Homo sapiens: one gene and its partner. The protein of the gene in region 1 interacts with the protein of each later gene in a pairwise test. Each region holds a gene or a part of one and is shown on either strand. Other genes may lie near its edges. The genes, in order: RIMBP3C and A1CF.

Region 1 (4,389 bases):
GAGGAGTTTGACTGGGAGCTGGTTTTCTTGGACAGAGGTTGGCTGGCAGGGACTGTCTCTGAAACTTGGGGGACACTGGCTGACTCCCCAAGGGCAACTGGGCTCTCCTCGAGGGAGGCTTCCCTTTTCTCCTGTATGTCTCTGTTGGGCTGTGACACTGCGTAGTCTTCAGGCCGTGCGTGGAACTTGGGCCTTCTGCTACCTTTAACTTGGGACTCCGGCATTTGACTGGTCTCCCAGGGCTGTTCAGGAGGGTGACCAGGCCGACACTGGAGCGCCTGTATCTCCTTCCAGGAAGGATGGAGGTCACACAGGGCCTTCTGCGGGTCGCGTTGCAGCTGCTGCTGCCTGTCCTGCCCGCGCGCCGCCTGCTGCAGCAGCTGTTCGGCGATCAAGCCGGAGGCATCGCGCTCTTGACACGCGCGGCCCAGGTGGCCGCGCACTTCGCTATTCTCAGCCTCCACCTTCCGCACCCAGTCGGTCTTGGCCTGCAGCCGCCCATTCTCCTCCGCCAGCCAGGCGTTTTTGAGCAGCGCCGCCTGCAGCTGTGTCTCGGCCTCCTCGCCACGTCGCCGCGCCGGGGCCGCCTGCGTGCCCAGCTCCTGGCACTCGCGCCGCCGCTGGTCCAGCTCGCGCTCCAGCGCCAGCATCTGCCGTCGCACCTCCTCGCAGGTTGCGCTCTGGCCGCCCGCCTCGGGCCAAGCGCCACCGTTGCCCTGCTGAAGCATCAACTGCCTCTGCAGGCGCAGCACTTCCCGCTGGGACTCGCGCTGCAGGCGGTCTAAGTCTCTGACGTTGAGCCACTGGGTGCAGGGGCCGCCCCTTCCAGTATGCAGGTCGCTGCAGGGACCCGAGGCGACACGCGCCTGCAGGAGGTGGCACTCCTGCCGCAGCTCTTCGATCTGCTTGTCCTTGGCCAGCGGCGCGCTCGCCTGCTCCGACAGGTCCCGAGCGCGCTGGCGGGCAAAGACTTGGCACAGCTCCAGGCCGGCGCAACTCTCGCCGGGTATAGGCGCGCTCACGGCCCGGAGGTTGGTCTCCTGCAGCTCGCGGGCGCGGTCAGCTAGGCGCCGCGCGAGCCCGGTCAGCTCCGCGCGCTTTACCTTGAGCCGCTTCACCTTCTCGTCTGCCTGGTAGGGGCAGCCTGCACGCCGCAGCTGCTTGTTCTCCTCTTGCAGGGTATAACAGCGGCGCGCCAGCACCCACAACGCCTTGGCCAGCAGCCAGTTCAGCTTTATCAGCTCGTGGTGGCCCAGGCCCGGGGGTGAGGGAGTCAGGACTTCGCAGGGCTGGCTCTCAGAGCCTTCTCCTCCCCGCGGGTTGCTGAGTTTCCTGTGGGCTGACGGTGGTGGTGGCGGCGGGAGTGGCGATGGTGGCGGCGAGAGCCTCCGGGAGCCAGGGGTGGAGGTGTCTGGTGAGGAGGGCCGCTCCTCGGATTTGGAGGCCTTGGGGAGGCTCCGGGTGCTGTCAAGCGAGCGGGAACACGCAGGTGCGAAGCAATCAAGGGAGCTGGCGTGCGTGGAGAGCAGGCCGTCTGGGGAGCTGGAGCACGCAGAGGACACCAGGCCTAGCGAGCGGGAGCGCACACCGACTTCAGCACTCAGGCTGTCTAGAGATCCGAGTTGGCAGGCGGGTTTGGGGGCGTGGCAAGAGCCGCTGGAGGTCTGGGGCAGCGGTTCTTCCAAGGAATGCACAGCTTGGGGGTCCGGTGATCCCGACAAAGCCGGGTGCCCGCGGAAGTGCGCCAGGATGTACTTGAGGAAGAGCTGGCGCTCCACCTCCAGCGCCGCCTGCAGATAGCGGATGCGCGCCGCCTGCTCGCCGTCAGTCTGCCAGCGAAGCTGCGCCAACACTTCCTGCAGGCGACAGCGGCACTGCGCCGCGGAAACCTCGGACGCCCCCGGGCGGCTACAGTGGCCGCGGTTCACCAGCTCCTCGGCCAGCTGGCGCTGCAGCTCCCGGGCTTGGCGCACCACGCCATCGCGCTCCCGGTGCAGCAGCTGCTGCAGCTGCCGCTGCTCGGCCTCCTTCCAGCGCAGCAGCTGCCGGATCTCGGCCTCGCGTTCCCGCTGCATCTCCTCTTGCAGCTGCCGCAACTCCCGGCTGCGCTGTGCCTCCCACTTGGAGCGCAGACGGTCAGCCAGCTGCCGCCGCTCCCGCTCGGCCTCCTCACGCAGCTGGCGCTCCCGGGCAGCGAAGCGCCGCCGTTCCGCCCGCCAGCCTGCCCGCTCCGCCTCCAGCTCCGCCCGTAGCTTCTCCAGCTCCCGCCTCTGGTTCTCCAGCACTGCCGCCGCCGGGCTGGAGCAGCCCGGCTTCTTGGGCGACGCGCCCAAGGGGCTGGGCGAGTCCTTGGCCATTGCGGCCGCGGCCCGGCTGGTCTCCAGACTTCGCCTGGCAGGCCTCAGCTCGCCAACGGCCGCCGCCGACCGCCCGGCGCGCCCCTTCCGGCGCCCCCTGGGGGTCTCCGCGTGCCCCTTCCGCCTCTTGGCATGTTCCCCCGCCTCCTGCCGCGGATGTCTGGCCCAGGCGCCTCTCCACCTGGCAAGGCCAGGGCTGGACTCCCACACCCCTGCTCAAACTGGCCCATGTCCCTTCCAGGATGCACGGGGGCTTTTCCGGTCCCTACACTTTTCCTGCTTCTAGCACCAAGTCCCTTGTGACCCTCCCCAGGCACCCTCCCAGGCACTGTGCAGTCCCAAGCAGGCCGCGGTGCCCCGAGGGAAGTCTGGGCTGCTGCTCCTGTACTTGGAGAAAGGGGCAGGGTGTGTGTGTTAAGGCCACCCATGGGGTGTGGGCATACCTGGTCGTGGGTTCAGGTGGTGTATTTGGGTCAGGTGGCTGGAAAATGCAGCAGGATAGGCCTCAACTTGGCTAGACCTGGACTCCCCAGGACCCTTCAGCCCCCTAACAGCCCTGATCACCCAACTGGTCATCCACCTTTTGAGGAAAGGATGTGCCTGATACACATTTGTGTTACTGCGCAGAGTCGGCTCAGAGGAGGTGTAAGCGAAAAGACCCTCCCCAGCAAGGTGGCATAGGGACCCAGGGCCAGATAGGCATGGGGGCACTGCCCAAACTGGCCATCTGGCCTGTCTACCTCCCACATCCAGGTACCACCTGGTGACAAACACTGGAGCCCCAGTGTCTGGGCTACTCATTGGCATCTTAGGTAGAGGCCTCAGGATGGGCCAGGAGTGAGGGTGAGGCTTCAGCAGAAATGTTGGAGGCATCCTGAGCTGCAGAAGAAACACACACACACACACACACACAGCTGCAGAAGAAACATACACACACACACATACTGAGCTGAAGGAATACACACATACACTGAGCTGCAGAAGAAACATACATACACACACTGAACTGAAGAAATACACACACACACACACACACACACACACACACACACACACACACACACTGCCTCTCTGACTGGTGGCCACCTGTGTGGCTTGGGAGCTAAGAAGCCCTGCTTCAGTCTGGCTCCTCTTTGCCCTTCCTGTCTGCTCCTGGTGCCAAGTGGCTTTTTGGAGACATGGATGGACACCTGATACCTGGCAGTCTGCATCGAGACATTGATTTTGTTTTTTGAGATGGGGCCTCACTCTGTCGCCAGGCTGGAGTGCAGTGGCGCAATCTTGGCTCATTGCAACCTCTACCTTCCACGTTCAAGAGATTCTCCTGCCTCAGCCTCCCAAGTAGCTGGGATTACAGGCTTGAGCCACCATGCCCAGCTAATTTTTTGTACTTTTTAGTAGAGACAGGGTTTCAGTATGTTGGCCAGGATGGTCTTGAACTTCTGACCTCAAGTGATCCACCCGCCTCGGCCTCTTAAAGTGCTGCGATTACAGGCATGAGCCACTGTGCCCGACAAGACCTTGATATTGAAGTCACATCAGAGGCCCCTTTGCTTCTTGGTCTGTCGTGTCTCCCTGTCCCCAGGAAGCACCTGGGACCTCTCACAACTGCTGTGTTCACTCAGCTTATGGCCCTCCTTTACAACACTCAAGTTTTTCAAATCAGTTTCCCCGGAACCCACAGAACATGCCTTTAGGCAGTGTCAAGTAACAAGAACATCGGGAATTATGGCTCCAGATGTTCTTTTTTTTTTTTTTTTTTTTTGAGATGGAGTCTCGCTCTGTCGCCCAGGCTGGAATGCAGTGGCGCAATCTCTGCTCACTGCAAGCTCCGCCTCCTGAGTTCACGCCATTCTCCTGCCTCAGCCTCTCAAGTAGCTGGGACTACAGGTGCCCGCCACCACGCCTGGCTAATTTTTTTTGTATTTTCAGTAGAGATGGGGTTTCACCATGTTAACCAGGATGGTCTTGATCTCCTGACCCTGTTGATCTGCCCGCCTCGGCCTCACAAAGTGCTGGGATTACAGGCGTG
Region 2 (3,811 bases), on another chromosome or scaffold:
GTTTGTTCAGAAAATATAAAAGCCACTCATCCAGTTTCTCTTAGGTTAAAACCCAAAACAAAAAACCTGATTAAAGTACTGGAATACTTAGAAATATTTTAAGAAAATAAAAAATAATAGTCGCAAATTCTGTATAATAATAGTTCCGAGAGCTGCAATAGTATGAAAAGAGATCTCTTCATTTTACATTAAACTCAAGTTAGAAATTCATCATGTCTTTTATTAGTATGTGAGTAACAATCTCTATCAATTAATAAAAGTTCTTTAATTTGTGTCTGACCTTCTACAACTATGGCTTAGAAATGAAGACCATGCCACCACCAACCAACACAGATGGGGCCTAAACAATCCCAAAGTAGAGTTGTGAACTTCCAGCCAGAAGCAGAGAGACAAGCCCTTTCCTGCAAAGTCAGCAGTGAGAGCTGGTGTTCCTTCCGCCCAGGTTTGCTCACCTGGCATAAACAAGCAGGCATAATATCTACCAGCAAAAGCTCCTTTATTATTGCCCAAGAACTGTAGAGAATGCTCTGAGGATTACAAGAGATCCTACACAACAAGAGTATTAAAAAGAAAATATCAATAGAAAAAACAGTAACAATCTACAAATTAATAAACTGGAAAATATCATGCTATTGCAGCTGGGTTAGTTAGCATAAATGAGGTAAGAAACCTCAGAGACACATCCTGAGACATTGTTCTGTCTTACAGAGTTATTTTCTCAGGCTTATGCCCTGCTTTCCACAGTCTACTGAATCTGCTGACTAACGAGAGCATCAGGACCTCTGGACAACCAAAAATGGCTTCAGAATAAAGAAACTATGAATCTTTAGAAAATATTCAGTTTGGAGTAATTACAGAAGAAAAAACATGCAGGAGGATGCTAAAAAGCATATTGTCATTAAGCAAAAAAACAAACAAACAAACAAAAAAGGCAGAAATAGTGTCTTACCAAACAAATAAAAACATTGCAACTGTCAACACCCATCTAGGAACACTCGATAAATACCAAGCATTAAACTTTTTAATTCTATTTTTATGAAATTGTGAGATTAAAACCCTATGACAAATGTCACGAAATAAAAATATATTCTTAGGCTATCATCTCTAAACCATTATAAACACAGAGATTGAGAGTAATAATGAGTAAATCTATACAAATCTATACACACAGTGTTGGAGCAACAATTTTTACAAAAACAAATATTCCAAACAAATCATAAAATTAAGCTTTTGGTAAAAAGTTACAGCTAATAGACTAAACTAAAAACATATTACAGTAAATGGTGTGAAAGTGATTTTATGAACTAATAGACCTAACATTTTAAATGGAGTTCAAATTGAGTTCATCTTAAATTTTATGAGTCATTAAATCATGTGGCATTTTATGTCTTCAGATACTAGCTTGAACTCTGAAAATTAGAGTTTAAAAACCTGAAAACTTGGGAAATAATGTGAATGTGTCATTTGAGGGGGAAATAACTTTTTTTATTCTTGTAGATATTAGAAGAGATTTGTCAGAAAAATAACTGGGGACAGCCAGTGTACCAGCTGCACTCTGCTATTGGACAAGACCAAAGACAGCTATTCTTGTACAAAATAACTATTCCTGCTCTAGCCAGCCAGAATCCTGCAATGTGCGTAACTTCTCCAAATTCCTTACCATTTTAGAGCAGGATACACTTATAAATTAAATGCATTTAGTCACCATCTAAACAAGATACTGAGGTCTACTACCTACTCATTTGTCATTCAATGCAAATATTGAGATGTGTAGTTGGGATGTGCCAGCCATGAAACCAGCATATAAAGGCCCCCAAATTTCATATACACAATGAAGGTTGTGTAGTATCACCAGCCAGTGGATAACAGTCAGTAGTGTAAAATGTAATAGAAATAAAAACTATAGCCCATTCTTGGCTGGATCACTTGAGGTCGGGAGTTTGAGACCAACCTGGCCAACATGGTGAAACCCCGTCTCTACTAAAAATACAAAAATTAGCCGGATGTAGTAGCCGGTACAGGCAGGCGCCTGTAGTCATAGTTACTCAGCAGGCGCCTGTAGTCATAGTTACTCAGCAGGCTGAGGCAGGAGAATCACTTGAACCTGAGAGGTGGAGTTTGCTTAGATTGTACCACTGCACTCCAACCTGGGCAATAGAGTGAGACTCCATTTCAAACAAACAAAGCTATAGCCCATTCTTTCATCTGTGCAGTGTTTAGGTTGAAGCATATGAAACTACCATTTTATACATAATAAGACAATGGCCCATCATTTAATTTTGGACCAAAGATATGACCTCTCTGTTAGTGGATATCACCTCCTGAATTTTACCTTGAGCCTGCATTTCTATATATTTTAGGAACAATTTGTTTCACTTGTGCTTTAGAAAAGCCATGTAGTGAATTACTTGTATGTCCCAGGAATGTCATCAACCACTGATGTTCTAGATCAATTTGTAAATATTTCTACATGCAACCTATATTTAGAAGCTTTAATAGCAAACAGAATGAAAAACACCCACTCAAAATACCACCATCCAGTCATCTTACAAAGCTGATAGTGCCTTAAGTTTTCACCTGACTCAGTTGTACCAGTTTAAAAATGCCTACCCTGACTGACTTGCTTTCCAGCCACCCTTTCACACCTCCAAAGCTGAGTGCCTTTGTGGATGAAGCAAAGACGTATGCAGCCGAATACACCCTGCAGACCCTGGGCATCCCCACTGATGGAGGCGATGGCACCATGGCTACTGCTGCTGCTGCTGCTACTGCTTTCCCAGGTATGGGAAAATTGTGCCAGAAATGGCGCCCTGCAGAGAGTATTTGGGAAACCCTTTTTTGGTACCATTGAATCACAGAAATGTTTGTGTACCCTACTTACAGCAATCTGACTTGCACAACCTTGGGACCAAAAAGAGTTTCCCAAATGAGTGACTCATTAAAACACGAGGCAAGAAAATCAAGCTGGGCAGCAGAGTGGGTTCTGGTCTCGGCTCAGCTTTAAACTGCTGTGTGATCTTGAATGAGTCAGTCTCTCTGAGTCTGGTTTGTTTTGGTTTTTACTTTTAGTACGAGAGTTTGAAACTACCTATAGATATATGATGTTTATTGGAGATCTTACTGTGTGCTAGGCACTCACTTAAATGGTCAGGAAGCGTTATAATATCTTAGTAATACTCATGATACCACCAAGAGTTAGGTTCCATCAGAAAGTCTGGTATACAAATGAAGAGCCCATATACAGAAAGATTAAGTAATTTGGCCACTGGCAATTAGCTTTTCAGCAATCTTTTCTCCCTCTCCAGTCTTCAATCTACTTTTATTAATTTGATTTCAAAAAAGATTTTTTAAAGTCAAAAATTTTGTGAGAGTGAGAGACAGACAGAGATCCTTTCAATATGTGAATAATCAGGACTCAACTCAATTTATTTGTTCTATAATTTTGGTCTGGGGCATATGCTGATTGCTTAAAGCAAAGCCTATCCGTGGATCAACAATGCCTTCAGAGGTCACATTTTAAAAGATTTGTCCCCATTTGTTATGTACCCACAACAAATGGTAATAATTAAAACTGAATCCTTTAGAGATTGAAGGGGACCAGGCAAGAAAGTTGTTTAGGAAATTTTTTCTCAGCTGAAAATTTTTTATCCTTTTTTTTTTTAGTAAAAGATTATTTTTATTAAAGAAATCTGTCATTTTTTACTTCTCATTGTGTCAGCGTGTGCCACATAAGTCCAAATTAGAGCTCTAAGTAGACCTAGAAACATGATATTCTTATTGATTAATTAATTCATATATTGGCCATGCGTAG

The links.
Region 2: the proteins of RIMBP3C (region 1) and A1CF interact in a two-hybrid assay, tested with the Homo sapiens proteins (one large-scale study listed by BioGRID).

Annotation. Positions count from the first base shown.
Region 1 is NC_000022.11:21,548,620-21,553,008, forward strand, and holds the start of RIMBP3C (RIMS-binding protein 3C), read right to left. Parts: upstream 2,843-4,389; 5' UTR 2,358-2,842; coding exon 1-2,357. Other genes in the region: UBE2L3 (ubiquitin-conjugating enzyme E2 L3), read left to right, coding at 831-1,031.
Region 2 is NC_000010.11:50,808,863-50,812,673, reverse strand, and holds part of A1CF (APOBEC1 complementation factor), read left to right. Parts: intron 1-1,497; coding exon 1,498-1,634; intron 1,635-2,631; coding exon 2,632-2,780; intron 2,781-3,811. UniProt on the Homo sapiens protein: Essential component of the apolipoprotein B mRNA editing enzyme complex which is responsible for the postranscriptional editing of a CAA codon for Gln to a UAA codon for stop in APOB mRNA.